Linked DNA regions of Homo sapiens: regions 1, 3, 4, 5 and 6 are each reported to be linked to region 2. Evidence: microRNA targets listed by miRTarBase, many of them from high-throughput screens and not tested one by one. Region 2 holds a microRNA gene; each other region holds the end of a gene's coding sequence.

The links. Region 2 holds the annotated microRNA hsa-miR-32-5p (UAUUGCACAUUACUAAGUUGCA, at 2,005-2,026, shown strand). A microRNA usually pairs through its seed, bases 2 to 8, with sites in the 3' UTR of a target mRNA and lowers its output. Matches are read on the target gene's strand: a 7mer-m8 pairs with bases 2 to 8, a 7mer-A1 pairs with bases 2 to 7 and ends in A, and an 8mer does both.
Region 1: miRTarBase lists DYNLT3 as a target of hsa-miR-32-5p. Seed matches in the 3' UTR shown: 8mer at 2,308-2,315.
Region 3: the mRNA of RAB7B is a reported target of hsa-miR-32-5p. The part of its 3' UTR that is shown has no 7-base or 8-base seed match.
Region 4: the mRNA of MPP7 is a reported target of hsa-miR-32-5p. Seed matches in the 3' UTR shown: 8mer at 1,929-1,936.
Region 5: miRTarBase lists ITPRID2 as a target of hsa-miR-32-5p. Seed matches in the 3' UTR shown: 8mer at 870-877.
Region 6: the mRNA of BRMS1L is a reported target of hsa-miR-32-5p. Seed matches in the 3' UTR shown: 7mer-m8 at 1,461-1,467.

What each region holds. Positions count from the first base shown.
Region 1 is chrX:37,838,159-37,841,158 of GRCh38, forward strand. DYNLT3 (dynein light chain Tctex-type 3) reads right to left here. Exons shown (of 5, transcript NM_006520.3): 4 at 2,870-2,947; 5 at 678-2,493. The coding sequence ends at 2,417. Among named protein-coding and RNA genes, the nearest start is that of DYNLT3, 7.9 kb to the right of the region's middle.
Region 2 is chr9:109,045,136-109,048,297 of GRCh38, reverse strand. MIR32 (microRNA 32) reads left to right here and starts at 2,000; the gene lies at 2,000-2,069. All of the region lies in intron 14 of TMEM245 (transmembrane protein 245), which reads left to right.
Region 3 is chr1:205,976,429-205,979,560 of GRCh38, forward strand. It overlaps RAB7B (RAB7B, member RAS oncogene family), which reads right to left. Exons shown (of 6, transcript NM_001164522.3): 6 at 312-2,500. The coding sequence ends at 2,423. It overlaps SLC26A9-AS1 (SLC26A9 and RAB7B antisense RNA 1), which reads left to right. Exons shown (of 4, transcript NR_110984.1): 4 at 1-1,667. Among named protein-coding and RNA genes, the nearest start is that of RAB7B, 25 kb to the right of the region's middle.
Region 4 is chr10:28,051,194-28,054,355 of GRCh38, forward strand. MPP7 (MAGUK p55 scaffold protein 7) reads right to left here. Exons shown (of 17, transcript NM_001318170.2): 17 at 1-3,051. The coding sequence ends at 2,872. Among named protein-coding and RNA genes, the nearest start is that of SNORD130, 21 kb to the right of the region's middle.
Region 5 is chr2:181,927,813-181,930,812 of GRCh38, reverse strand. It overlaps ITPRID2 (ITPR interacting domain containing 2), which reads right to left. Exons shown (of 18, transcript NM_001130445.3): 17 at 2,535-2,652; 18 at 75-1,252. The coding sequence ends at 2,548. Among named protein-coding and RNA genes, the nearest start is that of ITPRID2, 38 kb to the right of the region's middle.
Region 6 is chr14:35,869,982-35,873,143 of GRCh38, forward strand. BRMS1L (BRMS1 like transcriptional repressor) reads left to right here. Exons shown (of 10, transcript NM_032352.4): 10 at 379-1,982. The coding sequence ends at 496. Among named protein-coding and RNA genes, the nearest start is that of BRMS1L, 45 kb to the left of the region's middle.

The DNA of each region.
Region 1 (3,000 bases), not on the chromosome of region 2:
AAACTTAAAGTCCTTAATTAAAAACAACAACACAATTGCAAGTTGACAAATAAGACAAAATCCCTTGCAAAAAATAATCATTAAAAACTAGTAGTTACAGAATATATTTTTACACTGATTTTTGAAAATGAAATTTTGTGTTAAAATCATAAAATAAAAAGCATAAAATAGAAGCTATTAATTATGTTGTAATGGTAAATACTGGATTTGGGCTGCTATTTTAATGGTATTTATTCTGCATAATATGCATAATATATCTATGTGGTCCCATATTCATTTATCCTATTTAGAATTGCTTTCTTTTTTCTTTTTTTTTTTTTTTGAGACGGCATCTTGTTTTGTTGCCCAGGTTGGAGTGCAGTGGCACGATCTCGGCTCACTGCGATCTCCGCCTCCCGGGTTCAAGCAATTCTCCTGCCTCAGCCTCCTGAGTAGCTGGGATTAGAGATGTGTGCCACCACGCCTGGCTAATTTTTGTATTTTTAAGAGAGATGCGGTCTCACCGTGTTGGCCAAGCTTGTCTCAAACTCCTGACCTCAAATGATCCACCTGCCTCCCAAAGTGCTGGGATTACACAGGTGTGAGCCACCACCCCCAGCATTTCTTCTATTTAGAATTTCTAAGAGCAAGCAGAATGTCATTTCTCTAACTATTAAATGATTATCCAGAAGCAAAAGTACAGCACAGGAAGATAATATTTATTATATTTTAACTAGAAACAGAGCAGATAGCAAGTTCACCAGGTAAAAATTTTTTTTCTTAAATTATGCTTAAACAACAATAATAAAAAACAAGTCTGCATGTATATTTTGGTCACTATTATGATCTTCCAGGGCACAAAAGCCAGCAGCATAAAGAAACATGAATAATGACTGAGAATTTTTGATGTGCCAAAAACAAAGATCACTGCATTAAACTCCTTTATTTTGTTAATATTATTCTTAAACATTGAACAATTATTAATTATTGTTATTTGGCAAAATATCAAACATGCACATAGTATTCCTACAAGAATATTGCCTTAATATTGTCAATATTAACGCTAAGCTTATTCCTCTCCAAAATTCAATGAGTTATGGTTCCGCTCTCTATATGTATTAGTGTTAGTGGTAATATGCAAAACTGATTTTGTTTTCAGGGTTAAGTAGCAGATTGACTTCGCATTTGGTGGCCAGCTGTGTACCCTAATTTTTCATCTATTTTCTTAATAAATTTAATTACATTTCATAAGCCCTGAGATAACGTGCTAAGGATTGTATACTTTTAATCTATACTTTATTCCACTCAATTTGAACCCCACATAATAAGTCTTTTAAGTTATTTACAGATGGTTGTAACTAAAGCAATGACAAAATTTACTACTTGTATAGGTAAGACTGATAATAAGGCCTTTAACTAAGAGTTGCATATTTTATATGCACTTTTAACTTGCTAGGAGCAACTCTTAAAATTACATCTATAATTCTGTCAGAAAGCAATAAGTGCTTTTCATTTTGCTTACTTCCATATGTGTAACCAGATTCACTTTTTTCCTCCCTTGTAAAACAACTACTTTCTTTTCCTTCCCCAAATATTAATACGTCTTCCAACTGAACAATTGCTAAAAGGAACTTAGCATTTGCACAGCACATTGACAACTATGGTGCTTAGCAGAGACATATGCCCATAATAGGCATCTGATAAATGTTTGTTCCACATGGAATGAGTGAATTGTAAGGCAGCTGTTTGAGTCATACACTGTTCATCATATACTGCAACTAATTTTATTTAACTAGGAAATTCAGTTTACCAGATTTAATTTACCCTCAAGTGTAAATCCAAAAATTTGAAATTAAAAAAAATTGATTTACTAATCCTCAGAAAAAGTAAACAAGTTAATCATAGTTGTTACTATACTATTAGTTGATAGAAAATTAAAAAAATTATTACTTTCCACTAAATATTAAGTACAACTGAGGGGAAGAAAGTTTAAAAAAACTTAAAAATGTTAGCTAATTCTCATCATTTTCTCCACATTTATCCTTGCAGCTTTTTTGTTCATATATTTATTCCTGTTAACTTCTCTAGCTGAAAGAGAATTTTATTATCTGAATGGAGTTCCCCATCACCTTAGGTACAAAATATTAGTGAAAAGCTGGTGTAAATATAAGATTGTATTTTCATGTCATGCCATATTTCTAAATTTATTTTTTGCTAGCATTAAATTTTTCCTATTTAAACGATGCTGTATAGAATATGAGCTAATCTGCCAATTACTATGATATTGCTTGCTTATAATATTCAGTTTTTGTTGATAGCTTTAAAGCATATTGCACGCTTTTCATCTAGCACACTAGTAAACAACTATTACTCTTTTTGGAAAGGATACACTGACAAATTCTTAAGTTAATGGCTTTAGCCCAACATTTTTAGTCAGTTAAAGAACAATAGCAATGGCAAAAACGTTGACAATACAGTTCATGGTCCGGTTCTCCCATCTTACGGTACAGGTTCCTGAAACACAAAAAAAGGATTTTGAAATACCAGCAAAACATAAAAATTATCAGAGAATATATATATATATATACACACACACACACACACACACACATATACACACACACACACACACACACACACACACACACACACATATATATATATATATATACACATACATTTTTCACATGTTTTAATATCTTATTTCCTTCAACCTGTTAAGTTTTCACATTTCATATCGGTCTGAAGGTATACTTGTTACTAGGTACAAAGCAATACTGTTGATAGTCTTTTCAGAATTTAATCAGAATTAAATAAGTACTTGGTTAAAAAGTGCAGTTTGACTTTGCTAAAAGTTGGATTTTGTGTAAATCAGCTTAAGATCTCTTACCATCAGATGTGGTATCCCAAAAACAGGAGCTGGCTGTGTGAAAGCCATATGCGCTCTTCTGGACCACTGCACAGGTCACTGCAAATAAAGTCACAGAATGAGGGCACTTACAGACAAAGGAAAAGAGAACC
Region 2 (3,162 bases):
TGTAGAACTTTTGCTAAGTTCTCTCCCCTTTTCCTACTAGCAAGGCCTGGGTAAGATCTTCACCAATACCTTGTTTCCGCGATTGGCTGTCAAGTGGGATTAAAAAAAATGCTCTTAACACCTGTATAGTGTCCTCAGGTATCCACACAGGGGCCATCTATAAAGATTCCAGATTTGGGAGTATATTATCCAGTGTAACAGCAATTGGGGTGAAGCTGTTTCGAAGGAAGTACCAGCTATAGCTTCCCTCCTAAGTCCTATATGACCATTGACTATCATCTTTGCTGAATAAATGAAATGATGAAAATTCTAGCAATAGATAATCTTTTGTTTATCTAGGTGATATCTTTCTGACTCAGAAAAGCTTTTGCAAATGCTCTACCAAAAAGGAAGGCTAATCTTTTATCTTCCCAGTGGGGTAAAGCTATTTATTGTAGCAGCCATATCAAAGGCTGGTAGGAATTCTCCAGTCAGTGTGGCTTAAGCCAAGCTTTGCAGAAAAATATCTACCTTGTTCATAAAGAACTTCAAGAAAGATGATGCTTCCATTTTCCTCAAGTAATCTTCATTGTTACTGACTCTTATTCTTAGAAAAATGTTTCTATTTTCACATCACAGCTTTTGAATTTTCTCTTGTTCTGCTTTCTTACAGCAGACCATCCTCTAAATGTCTGTCACCTTTTTTCATACCAAATATGCCACCTTTTTTGTTTTAAACTTAATTCCTAGCTGTTGTGTTTGCCAGTCAGTGGTAAGTAAAGCTGTTAGTCACACCTAGGTTCAGCTGATTGAAAGCACATACTCTGTTACACCATGATGCCTTCTTTCAAGAGGAGCTGGTTAGGGAAGATCATGACTTATATTTGTGGACATAAGAGGGTGGCATTTAGAAATTCAGGTCTTTGGCTCAGGAGAGAATTTGAGATTACAAAGAGTGCTGTCATCTACAGCGATATGAGGAAATCAGTCTTTTACAAATTAGATTCGACTTCCCTTCTTGGGAGTGCATACACTAATTATGTATTATAACAGTAGCTTATGTCTTGGTTCCATAGTATACTGGCATTTAAAAACCATTTGTTTTATTATCACCTTATTTTAAATACAGAAAAAATTTTAACAACCTTTGGTACCAGAACTATAATCTAATGGTTCTCAGAATTGATAGATTTTTATGAGTCTGATAAATATGGTACAGACTAAAGAATGGGTTATGGCCTGAGACATTTTTCTAACCAAAGCTATATCAAGTTATGTAATTTTAAGGCTATAATTCAAGGTGTTTTTTTTGCAGTTTAAGTTCCTAGGGCTGTTTCTTTACTGGCTCAAATTCAAGACTTAAAATGTACAGATTTTACAGAGATTCCTCTGAAGAGCTTTCTCCTGTGGAGAAGATGGTAGTGAGTTCTCTTTCTAAGAGCTCCTGTTGGATTTTTCATCCTGAAGGTTTGTGTTGAAGAGGCAATATGTTTCTTCATGGAAAAAGATTTTGAGGGAAAAATAAGTGGTTATTTATAATTTATGAATGACTATGAAAATATTGTAATGTCCTCAAAGTGCAGTTTAGCCTACAAATATCAGTGATACCAACTTTTATAAGCATCAGTCATTAATCATCATCTATGTTGCAGCTAAGTGGAAATCATTACATTCATTTATATGATCTGTGAATAAGTCAAAAATGGAATTGAAATTGGGGGTTAATTGCATGACCAGACAGTGATAGTGTCTGTTCGTGAAGCTTTGCCTTCTGAAGTATGTGGTTTCTTTATGATCACTATCTCATTGAAGTTTTGAACCTTACTCATTATTTTGATTCTGAATAAGTATTCTTCTCAGTTGAATACATTTGCAATTGGGTTTTCATTTCATGAAGTTTTGAGTCAGTGGCATGCATCCTTTATCCCCAGACCATTTTCCTCTCTTCAGCAGCATGTTGTCTCCTGAATGTATACATCACACCCTTCTTCCCTGATGCTCCCATTCTGCTTGCTCTGGTGGAGATATTGCACATTACTAAGTTGCATGTTGTCACGGCCTCAATGCAATTTAGTGTGTGTGATATTTTCACATGAGTGCATGCACACGGGTATGGCTCTTGCTTGCTGGGATTACAGCTTTTCAGTGCCAGTGGGTGGGTGTCCTGATGAATTAGATAAGACAGTGTGTATGCCATGCGATTCTCATTTGGAAAGTGAACATGCTTCCCATCGGTACCTTCCAATTTTGGAGAATTAAAAGTATTTGGATTAAAAAAAGTCAGCAATGATCATTTAGTAAATCAGTGTTTCCATTTTTTACTTTGAGCAAATGAAATATTTATTACAAATTCTCATTGATTTAAGAGTATAAACAATATTTAAATGTATAAGGAAGAATGTAAAGCTGTAAGAAAATGTATTTTCATTTATTTGAAGAAATCTCTCCCAACACTGGAATAGAGAAGCAGAAATCTCTTATGCATATTTGGGGAAATTAAATTAACTGGAGTTCTTAAATAATAATCAAGACAGTAAAGGTATGCTTAACCTACCTGATGAAAGATTCATCTCATAAACTTAAGTTTCCAAGGTAAATTACCTTAAAAATGTGTCTTTTACTTTCTCATTGTGATGCTTCGAAAACTGCTAAATTCATTTTAGTGGGCTAATAATGGAACTAGTTTTGAAATACACGTTTACTATTTGCCTATGTAATTGAAACAACCCCTTGTTATTTTTTTAGTTAGCATTAGAGTAAGCATCCACAATCACTAGGCATTGTCAAGGACACAAAACCATGTATTACTGTATGAAAATATTGAATTAATATTTACTACTACCATAGCCTCCAGATGATCTATTGTGATGCTGTCATTGTATGTTTCTGTGTTTCACCACTGTTTTGGAGGGTGAGAATGGAAGAATTCCACGTAAGCAGCTCATCCCCTGTGCCCTTCAGCAGCTCGGCCGTTCCCCTCATGCTGGAAATCTAATGTCAGCCAGGTTGCTATATGACACCCTGTGGAGCTGGGTTTCCAGGGCAGATTAATCAAGAAAGGGAAGATGTGACCTCTCAAGGGAGGTTGGGGCTGGGAAGGGGTGGGTAGAGAGAGATTTGTTAAAGGATACAAAAATTACTTAGAAGGCATAAGTTCTAATGTTCTACAGCACTGTAGAATGA
Region 3 (3,132 bases), not on the chromosome of region 2:
GCCTCTTGCAGACTCAGAATCTTTTCCATTCTAGCTTCAGTGTGTCTGAGACTCATTGTTTGCTAAGGATTGATTCCATGAATGAGTGACCTGCCCTCAGTGGGGCCCATCCTTGATCGTAGGCTCTGTTGTTGCTGTCTTGAAACTCAATAATGTCTGAACAAGAGACCCGGATCTCCATTTTGCACCGGGTTCTGTAAATTATGTAGCCAGTCTCAGTTCACTTTTAGTTGTCTGCCCTTTAGTATCTTTTTCATATCGAACCACGTAGATGTATTTTTAAAAATATAAAATCTAAGTCGCACAAAAGATAAAAACAAAGAAGGACACATTTATTATTTGTTGTGCACCTTTAGAAATGGTCCACAGGTCCACTGCAGTGCACAAGCTGCTGCATGCACACCGCACGTGACAATCCAGTCTGCCTGACTCCCAGGACAGCCTGTGTGATATGCAAAATGCCATTCCCATGAGGGCGCATCATGTTTCCCAGGAGCTCTGAAGGACACAGATAGAGCTTGTGCTCTAGGCTGCCCCCCTGTTCCCGTGCTGGCTCCATGCTGGTGTCCAGAATGAGCCAGTTCACACTCCAGTGCCACGTGGGGGGAGAAGTGGCTCCCAAACTCCCCTGCTGACCTCCCCCCGGCCCCTAGGTGTACCTTCCAAGTCAGATGACAGTCATAGGCTAACATCCCCAGCTTTGCCTGGAACTCAGGAAAGGATACTTACGGGTAGACAGAAAGATTCTGCAGTGGGCATGGACTTGGCCATTGAAGACCCTGAGAGGACATCTTGTCCACCCTCTCCAGGCTAGGCCCTGTCTGTGCTGCCTGGAGCCAGAAGAAAAAGATTCCAGCCTTGGAATCTGCAGGGAGGGAGACTCCTTGCAGTGAGCTTTCTTGCATTTCATTCTAGTATTTGCCACAGATGCTGATTTCTTGCCTGAGTCATATATATTGAAGTTTTTGCTCATTTCTTACTAGGCTTAAGAAATTGGAATTCTCTGCCTTACAAATCCCAAAGGGCTAAACATGCCTCCAAGCCCATGAACAAGCTTTGAGCATCTGAAGGACAAAACCCCAGCTCCTAAAACCTTCATGAGCATCCACTTTCTGCTCAGCCTGGAAGAGAAGGAGCACTGCTGCCCTCTGGTGGTCAGGCAGCAGAGCATCTAGGAGCCACCCAAGGGAGCTGGGTCCCCTTTGCTTTGTCTTTGGGACAGCAGCTTTGAGTATTAGGTCAATGGATGTCCTTTCACTGTTCCTGGAACATGGCAAGCTTGTTTTTGCCTCAGGGCTTTGGGTCTTGATGCTCCCTCTCCCTGGAATGTTCTTTCTCCAGCTCTCAGGTGACAGCTGCTTTCTCATTCTCTAGCCCTCAGACCAAATGCCACCTCCTCAGGGAAGCCCTCCTGGACCACTTCATCTAAAATAGCAACTCATCCCACCCCCTGTCACTCTATCCCATTACCCTGTTTCCCTTTGTTTATAGCACTTACCTGCTATTTGGAAATATCTGTCTAGAGTCTGCGTCTCTCCCTCACCAGATGTCGGCTCCAGGAGGGCAGAGTCCCTGTGTTTTGTTTGTCACTGGACTTCAATGCATCGTACATAGTAGATACGCAAAAATAAACTTGTCAAAGAAGTAAATAAATGCATATTGACAACAGCTACTGGATTTAAGCACAGCTTCTGGTCCTCAAAACCACACTGTGATACAGGGGGCAAGGCACATCTCACCCCCACAGGACAGATAAACAAATTGAGACTCAGAGATTTATGTGAGTTGCCTGAGCACCCAGCAAGGAGGAATGAGCCATGGTCCCTTGTGGCTTCTCCTGTGCTCCCTCAGTCTTCTACCCTGGAGGGAGCAGAGGGGGTCTCAGGCACGACAGCTTCTGCCAGGAGCTGAGGCGGGCCCAGCATGTGGGGTCCAGACCTTTACTCCTTAGTCTGCTCGTTGAAGGAGGCTGAGCTGTGCCATTGTCCAAAGCTTTGCTTGTGGCTGAGGGGTGTGAGGTGGGAGCGGGTGAGGAAGGTCTGTCCACAGGAGGATGTAACCAGACTCCAATCAGTGGCCGGTCTGCGGAGATGTGTGTTCTGGAGCGGGAGTGTTTGAGGGGTGGATGGGTGGGGAAAGCTGGAGCCACTGCGGAAACGGTGACTTCTGCAGGACCAGGGTTTGGCTCTGACATTCCGGGCTTCATCCAGACGCTCTCACTATACTCAGCCTGAGCCAGGGGCTGCCCTCTGACTCTGGGCCCAGCACCAGGGTCAAGGGCTCTGCCGCAGAGCTTAGGCCCCCTGCACTGTGCTTGGGCAGGCAGTGGGGCTGGAGGGGGATGGTCACCTGTTCTCAAGCCTGGGGTGACCAGGCTCGGGGCAGGCTCTGTTTCTGGGCTTCCAGAGCAGGCGTCTGGAGGTCAGCAGCATCTGCTCCTTGACTGGTCTGGCGAGAGCTTGATGGATTCTGTGAGGTGATTTTCTAAGATGCTCTGGTACTGGGGAAGGAAAGAGAGGCCGGCATTCATGTCCTGAGATACAGAGTGCACCGCCCGCCCTTCATTTCTTAGTGGGCCTCAGAGCCTGGGCTCTTGTTTCCTCCCCATTATACTTCTGGGAAACTGAGGCCCAGACAGGGAAGCCACTGGTGTTCCCCACCCTCCTTCTTCCCTGTGTCTCCCCTCCAGCCTCTTCCCAGGAGCCCAGAGCAGGTCAGTGTCTGAATTAGCGGCCCAAGTCTCCTGACCTCCAGCCATGTCCTATAACTTTCCATTCTCCAGAGGGGACAGCTGAGGTGTCATTTGGGCTTAGGCAGAGAGGTGACGGCCACTCCTCATTTCTCCTGGAGACCTCTTCCTGCAAATATCCCAATACCCCCAACCTCCTTTTCATCCTGTCCACCTCTCAGCCTCCCCTACTCATGCCTAGAAAAGCCCAGTCGGTCCTCTGTCCTGGCCACATCCAGGCAGCCCTCCCTAAAATGGACTCAATGTTTCTCCCGGGCCCTTTTGCTTCTCCAGTCTCTCTTGTCCCAACAAGGGTCCAGAGGAAGCCCCTTCTCGGTCTGCCAAGCTTCTGCCTTTCCAGCTGGCTCCACTTCTCACCAAGAGCCTGCCCCCCCTCCCCAGTT
Region 4 (3,162 bases), not on the chromosome of region 2:
TTAAGATCAAAGATTTTTCATTACATTTATTTATAAATCCTTCCTAGTCAAAATAAAATAATAAAAATCTGTATCTTTAGAAAGAACATAGTTTTGTAAGTCTGAGAAGGTTATGTTTGTCAGTTTCAAATTATTACAGTTTAGATACATTCAATCATTACACAATACCAGGAAGGTCAGCCTTAAAGATACCAAGAACTTCCATATTGGTCAGTAAAATAAGGGTAAAAAATTAAATTTTACTTTCACCTTTTTATGTTTGATTGACTACAGTCAATAATAGGAGTACAGAATTTACTTTTTGGTCTTGATTTTTAAATATATGAATTTTAAAAAGTGAACGTTCCTCTTCTCTTACATAGTGGCTCCAACTTAGGGAGCTGGCTTCTGGAGGGAGGAGTGCTATTCTCCTTGCTGGAGAAGGAGGCTGGGGGAAGAAAGTACAGAATTCAGGGCCTTTTTGCTGCCGTTGTCAATGAACTCTCGGAGTTGGCCCTGCCTTATTAAATTTTAATCAATTATCTTTCTAAGCATCAAGATGGCCATGTAAACACTGTTTTTAAGACCACGTCTACCGGCTGGGCACGGTGGATCATGCCTGTAATCCCAGCACTTTGGGAGGCCAAGGCAGGAGGATTGCTTGAGCCCAGGAGTTCAAGACCAGCCTGAGCAACATGGCAAGACCCTGTCTCAAAAAAAAAAAAAAAAGTATACTACCTGATTTCTAAAATTACCAAAGTGCCCCCTTTTCCCCCCATTATTTAAAAAATATTGTTCTAGCTCTGCGCTTAAGGTCTGGACCTTTCTTTTTTAAAATGTTATATTTTTATAACATCTTATTATTACCACCACCAAAAAAGGACTCAGTTTCTCCCACTTTACACTATATCTCTGTCCCCAAAGTAAATAACTGAAGCAATTATCTGCAATTTTTTTAAAATGTGGGTATTTCAGGGTAAAGAATTTGGACTGCCTAAATTACTCAGGTGATTGCCTGAATTATTACATATGTCCCATCATTCTTTGTACAAGAAGTCTTGATTTATAGAAAATTTCAGACAATGTTCAAAGAAGGAAATATGCTACCCAAACAATCTACTTAAGACTTCAGGTTGGCAACCCTCCCTCTTTCATTTTTTAAAAACAAAATTTTTTGCTATTTAATTAATACACTTAGAACTCACTGTCTGGATCACGTTGTTATATAATACTTAGTCTGATTATCTATTTTGGTGTGACTATGTGTCAAGGCCATTGGAGTGGTTTTTGTCTCTGCTTCTAATATGAACTTGACAAGTATGAAGGAAAACCAGTGAATAATGCTATCAAATGTGCAGTGCACAGATCGCACACTTGGATCTATCTTTGTAAAGCTCAAATATTTACATGGAATGTTGACCATGATTTATAAAACTACTCTTTTAAATTAGGACATCTTGACATACAATCAGTTTATTTTATGAATAGCCCCGTTTGATATTTAAAAAAATATGCCTTTAAAATATTTCATAAATATATAGAATTTTACTACATTCTATTTTTTTTCACATGACATTTAAACTCTCTTTACAAATCAACAAAAAAATAACATTTTTTTTTCCACTTTGAAAGTCACAGATGCAATGATTTTCGACGGGCAGGGCTTCACTGCATGCAAGAACGGCAGGATATGCTCTCTTATAGAACGGATAGACATTTCTAGCATTTTGAATTATATAATTCACTTGCTGAAAATCAGTAGTATCAAAGAAAAGTGAGAGAACCCATCTAAATATTTACAATATAAGAGTCTTTCCTAAACTTCTTTAACAATGGCAAGGTTAGGATGGTGTCTGGACAGTGTTAACAAGCATTTTGATGACAAAGAAATAACATCACATGAAAAGTTTTCTAAAATAAATCTTAGAGCAATTTAAAGAGGGGTGATCTATTGCACATAGATGAAAAATAATCTTTAATTGTATCAGTAATATGTAAAACAGGTTTTACATGTTTTAGAATAGAAATCCTTCTTCTAATTTATTGGAAAAATCCAAAACCAGCTAAAATAACATTTTGGGTGACTTCATAAATTGTCTTCTGAGGAATTACAAATAAAAATATCCTTTGTAATCATTTCTTGCCACAAGGCTACCATTCTTACTTATATTAATCCCAAAGGAAAGGCTTTTCGTTACATATATAATAACTGTTAAAAGTCTACTTTCCCTTATTAAATGTTGTTGAGTCACTGACAGGTACTCAAAAGGACTTCTCAAGCTATATTATGAAGGCCATTCACTCAAGGTAAAATTTCAGTTACTCCTTTAAGAATTATTTTAAAATGCACACACTGTGAACGTATTGCGAATATGTAAGAAAGTCTACACTTTTTGAATAGTAAGAGGACACCTTACTGCCTGCCCGGCTAAATCTGTGATGATCCACCCAGAAACAGCAGAGCTCACCTGTCTGTCTGGAGCTGCTCATGGCTGCTGAATTGATACCTTCAACAGCTAACATTCAAACTCGACAGCAGCAGCCACACCTGAGACCAGCAGAAGCGCTGAACTCCCATACATACTAAGCCTCTAGCTAAGTCTCTCTGAAAATTTCAGCCTCATCTTGGAGATAGAGCGGTATTGAAGACAACGAGAAGGTTTGAGGTTTTGCTTAGAATACAGTACTGTGCATATTTTGATTTCGGATCTTATACTAACACATGGCGTTTGAAATAAGGCTGTAAAAAGATACAAACAAAACCAGCATTCAACTTGAACCAAGATTGTACATCTATGACAGTGATATAGATTTAAAAACCCTACTACCAAAACTGTAATTGATTTCATCATGCACTCTATAGAAAAAGACAATTATGGAAATTTCTCTTAGTTATGAATGTAACCAGCTCACTGGCACCCAATGGGTCTCTGTCTCTAATTTGTCAAAAGTTGTTTTGAGCTCATTGAATGCCACAGTGAGGTCATCATTTATTATAATTTTGTCAAAAAGATGACCATATTGACTTTCCATTATCTGTGCAGATTTAATCATTTCTTGAAAATCTTCTTCCTACAAAAGGAAGTATTAAAAAAATAATTGGTTAACCAGGCCATTACCTCACTTCATATCAATGCAAACATTCTACAATTGGTTTACCTAATGCTGTTCTGTGTTCAGTCT
Region 5 (3,000 bases), not on the chromosome of region 2:
TTTGGACCTCATTTGTTACCTATCAAATCTAATTCAAAATCTTCATGTTGCAGTTTAAGAAACCACTAAAACACTTTAGGCAAAATAAATACTTTATTGTTTTAATATATATATATTTTAGAAATCAGCCTTTGTGTGATATTTCAAACATTTATAAGCCTTTTAGAGATTCTTTCAAAGAACACTGTTAACAACTCAACCACTTTTGATTAAAATATCACACACAAAGAAACACAATAGGAGTTGAAAAAATTATAAATGCTAGAAGAAAAATTCTAATAACATTTGGTGGTTACTTTACACATTTATTTAACACATATAAAACCAAATGGGAAACCATTTTCCTTTTTTTTCATAAAAACAAAGTTTTCACTGGTTAAAACTGAACTAAAATCATTTTATGTATGAGGAGAACAAATCTAAATTACTTCCATTTTGAAAAAACAAACACCAGCTTATTCATTTCTATTCATTCAAGTCATAGGCCCCATTATTTGGATGATACTCTATTTAGTCTAGAAGACAGAAAAAGAAACATCTCCATCTAATAAAGAAGTCTGGACAATGCAAAAAGTAAAAGTACATAGTGTTTAACATAAGGCACATTTCCAAAAGAAAAATACTACATAAGCAATGATAAAATTACATTTGTCTTGGGTAAAGCAACAAGGCTTACAGTGTAAGTACATTAAGTAGTTGTAGGTAACCTCATAAAATTCTATCCTACTGCTATTAGTAACCTCCCCAAGAATTAAGAGCAATTATATTTTTTACAACAGAACAGTTTTTCTTCTTGGAAGTGACATTAATTAACAGCAGTGGAGGGAAAAATCATTGGATGCTTCAAGCTCTGAAAAAAATGAATCAGTTATTGCACAGTAAATACCTCATAGAGGTCAGTGTTTTAAGATGTTAGTCTGAAGAAATATGTTATTTATAAGTTGGATAAGTCTGGAAGTCTTCAAGTTTTAAAATTAATTCTAATAGGGAATCAAATGAAAAATACTGACATACAAATAAATATTAGGCTTTTCAAACTGCTAGAGTTTTTGATAGTTTAGAAAAGAAATAGCAAAGTGCCTAAGTTTCTATGTACGTCTTTTTAAAATATATGGTTGAAGAAATACACATTGTACACTGTATACAGTAGCCCAGCTCAACAGCAAGTATCTTCTAAAGCACAAATAACACCTCCACCAGTGCATATCATTGATAATTCCAGTATTACACAGCTAATAGGATCCATGCCAACCTTAAAAAAGAAAAGAGAAGTCAGTTTTAAACCTCTTTCAAATACTGTTATTAAAAGCTTCTTTAAAGGAAGATGAGAATTTTATGCAAATATATATACACAGAAACATGATTATCCTGTAATCTCTATACATCTTCCTGAGAGTTAATTCTTATATCCCTGGCTTTAAAAAAAATAATTCCTATTAATTGCTTTGTGACATAATTTATTAAAATACTTTCCAATTTCCTATATCTGAAATTGTATATTATACTTTTCAAATTACATTTGTTTCTCATGTCTTATTCAATGAATATTTTTAGTTCTATTCTACTCAACTTATTCTTTCTTTTTGCATTCACCAAGAATTATTATTAATATATATTATATAAAATGAAGTTAGAGCTAAAGCAGGAGGATCGCTTGAGGCTAGGAGTTTAAGACTAGCGTGGGCAACATAGCAAGACCCCATCTCTACAAAAAAATTTTTTAATGTAATTAGAGCTACGAGATAAAATGAAAGTAATTCGTTTTACTAAGACAGACATATAAAAGAGTTTTTTGAAATAAATTATTATTAGAAATGAATCTATGGGATATGTTTCTTTAAAAGATAAAAATAATTAGGAAAGATACTTAGAAGTTGTGATTAATTCGGCCGGGCGCGGTGGCTCACGCCTGTAATCCCAGCACTTTGGGAGGCCGAGGCGGGCGGATCACGAGGTCAGGAGATCGAGACCATCCCGGCTAAAACGGTGAAACCCCGTCTCTACTAAAAAATACAAAAAATTAGCCGGGCGTAGTGGCTGGCGCCTGTAGTCCCAGCTACTTGGGAGGCTGAGGCAGGAGAATGGCGTGAACCCGGGAGGCGGAGCTTGCAGTGAGCCGAGATCCCGCCACTGCACTCCAGCCTGGGCGACAGAGCGAGACTCTGTCTCAAAAAAAAAAAAAAGGAAGTTGTGATTAATTCACAAAATCTTGTTCTTTAAAACTATACATCTGAAATACCATTATAATCAAAATAAGATTCAGGTTTGAAGGTCCAATTCCAGGATTTATTACTATAATGAAATTTCAGTAGAATGACCCAATATAAGTAATTCCTTGGAGATTTGTATTATGGGATTTGACTTACACTTCAAATAGGCTTGTGTGAAATTTTCACATTGTAAAATAACATATTACATACATTCTAAAACTCAAAATTTAACTAGAGAACCAAACCTGTATACTAACAAAACAAAGAATAAAATGCCAGTTACTATTTACATTTAGCTCAACAAAGAAACTCAGAAAAATTTACCTATAATTTCTGTTTAATGATAATCTTGCTTAGAATTAGACGCTTTACTTGAAGATACTGCTGCCAAAAGTCCACTTACAATTTCCCGTCTGATTTCCCCAACAATAGACTCTTTAATCTAGATTGGAAAAACAATAAAACAAAAATTTACCAATATGAATGGAATTCATTTTTTCCTGTTTTTGGAAAAAATACAAATAGCATTCAATTTCTTAATTTCACCTTCATGTGAATCTCCCTGCAATACAGAGAGGGAGTGGGGAATCGAGTCCATCTATCATCCAACCCAGATCAGACTCCCAAGGACTGGTCTAGAATTGTTCAGCTAACTAGATTACAAATATCACAATTCATAAGGTGAGGACATTAGAAAATGTTATTTCATAAGTTAAAAAACTTCTAGTAAATACTTTACCTCATGTCAAAAAAATAATCTGGAAGGACTTCTTAAATGTTTTTAGTATTG
Region 6 (3,162 bases), not on the chromosome of region 2:
TTAGAGATTAGCATTTGAAAGATACTGACATGAGTTACAAGTATAATACCATATACATAGCGCTTTTAGCTCCAGTTTTTTTTTTTTTTTTTAAAGAGGTGGGGTGGGGATGGAGTAGGAAGAATGTGCTTTTAATAGTTCTAATAGAAAGTAAATTTTACGAACTCTATTAAGAAAAGAAGGATGATCTGCTGTGTTGCTGAATGTGATATTTTTGGCAGCATGTACTGCTGATATGCAGCATTCTGGTAAATGACAATTATATACCTGAGTCTACTGTTGTAGGCCAGTTTATTTTGGTTTTATATAGGTAATAATCTAAAGTGAATTGAGGAGACATTGTAATTCATTCATTCATTCTTTTTTTTTTCTTTTTAGTGCTGTAATTACAACAATTAACCATGATGAAGTTTGGTTTAAGAGGCCTGATGGAAGCAAATCTAAGCTTTACATTTCACAGCTACAGAAAGGAAAATATTCAATTAAACATTCATAATCATGATTTAAGTGTTATCTAAATTTACCTTATTAGTGTTACCAAATGTAAGTGCCATGAGAGTAAAAAAATGTATTCAATAACTTAATATTCTCACTGAATCATGAGAGAATGTGTATTTGTAGGTAGTACTCTAAATAGATCTCATTGATATGTTATTAAAAGAAACAGTAATAAAAATTTTATCACGATCCTTACGTTGATTTGCCTCTTAGGTCCGATGACCAATAGGTATTCTGTATATGGTAGGGGTTTCTTTCTAAACATTTTTCTTTGGTTTTAAAAAAAGTTATGCAAATTTGTCTTATCTTTAGTAAACTATGACTACATTTATCTGCAATTTTTAAAATTTTCCATATCTTTGTCATTCATTGTGTGTTTGTAAATAAGGCCGATAGAATGTTTCCTATAAATGGTTTGTACTAGTACATTAGTGTTAAACCAGAACTGAAATTTAAACATATATATATATGAGGATGTATATATGGCATCATCAGCTTATTTAGAACTGATGGCCATACCTTACAATCTTGTTTTACCCAAAATTAAGCTATTGGGGTTGAAAGCTAAAAGGAGCACTTTTGTAGAATAGCAACTTTTCTTTTCCTCTTTCTTGATTGTATGGTGGGGTGGTGACCTATTTTTACAAATTATACCTAATGAGTAAAATTAGTGTAAAGTGATAACATGCTTCTACCTGTATTTCTAGTGACCCTTTAGCGGCAGGTATTTATACCTGGTATTTATGATGCAGTATATAAGTGGTGAACAATAACTGACAGTATTGTGCTTGCTGTACATGTCTGGTCTTTTGAAACAGATTTTAGTAAGCATTTTCCAGAGGTAAAACTGTGTCCTTATTCTAATTTTATTCCTAGGGCAAAGTAGACAGGGATTATTTCCTTGAATCTATTTCCAAATTAATATTTTTTTCTTTGGTATTTCTACACTTTAAGGCCATTTGGTGCAATTTAGAAAGTGTTGGCCTCCCTTCCGCTAGCCACATTCAAAATTAACTTCCAAAACCTCAGGAACAGTACAAAGAATTGAAACCCTCAATATGGCAGCACAGCCGGCTGTAGTGTATATTTAGGGTACACCAAATCAGGTATTCCTGGTGGTCTTGTGCACTTTAATTTCTGTTACAATGAGTTAAGAGGATGAGGAAGAAATCTACTTATTAACACTTACTGCAGAAATGTCTGCATTATTCCGTTTGTTTTCTTATTATTTTACCTCTCCAAACATCTTCCTGTGCAGATCACTACTTCATAGTTGCCAAATTTTAAAACACTTAACTGCTGAAATTCAGTGTCAGCAAAGTGATATTACGTTGTTCTGTTTCTAATTAACCTTAGCAAATGTACATAATGTCAAAACCCAATAGTATTTGACAGTACTTATGTATACAATGTTTGATAAGCATTTTTAATAAGATTTGTATTTTTAAATTTAGTATATAATAAAAAGATGTGTTTCAGTGTGATTTGTAGTGTCTTGGATTACTTATGTGTATTTAGTTCTTTTTATAACCTATCCACTTGTAAGAAAGATTTGAATTGGTTTACGTTAATAGATATGGAGTAGGCTGGGTGCAGTGGCTCATACCTGTAACCTCAGCACTTTCTGGGGTATATTTAGATGTTCAAGACAGCTAAGTTATACTTAATTTTAAAATATATGCATATGTGTTGTACTTTGATTAAAAGGTACTGTATAAGTTAATGAAATTCTAAATAGAAAATCTTTATTTTTTTATTTTTATTTTTTGAGATGGAGTCTTGCTCTGTCACCCAGGCTGGAGTGCAGTGGCACGATCTTGGCTCACTGCAACATCTGCCTCCCAGGCTCAAGTGATTCTCCTGCCTCAGCCTCCTGAGTAGCTGGGATTACAGGTGTGCACCATCACACCTGGCTAATTTGTATATTTTTAGTAGAGACAGGTTTTTGCCATGTTGGCCAGGCTGGTCTCAAACTCCTGACCTCAGGTGATCCGCACACCTTGGCCTCCCAAAGTGCTGGGATTATAGGCATGAGCCATCACACCTGGCCTAGGAAATCTTTATTTTAAAACTATGATTTAGTACATTTATTTTCAAAACTTTAGTATTTATATCTTATGTAGTATTCTACCATAATATTAAGATTCATAAAAGCATATGCTTATCTATGACTAAAATGCTATAAAATATATTGTCTTATTGGCAGTTTGCCATTAGTTGTCTGGTCATAAAGTTTAATTTAGGAAAATTATTAGAAACTCCAAAATGTGATGTAGTGGCTGCTGCTGCTCCTGTGTTTATGATCAGCTTCTGTCTCAGGATCATTTCTTGACCTTTATTGTCACAGCTCCTAGTTTTTCATGTTCAATCCATCCCCTCCTTGCTGTTTCCCATTTTTTAAAAAGAGATACTATCTAAGTATCACTAATGCAATTCTTCAACTAATAATTATTGGCAAATAGTAATGGCACACTCCTGATTTGTCCCCTTTTTCACTGTTCATATTGGTGGGCTGGACACAGTACTTTTTTGCAGCCTTCTTCATGTAAAAGTTGTTCTGATGTATGCATTACTTGGAACACCAGTTGCAGAACCATGTATGCCTCATTAATAATTATTTAAAAAGAAGAAAAACTTCCAAAGATTCAGGAACAGTAGAAAGAA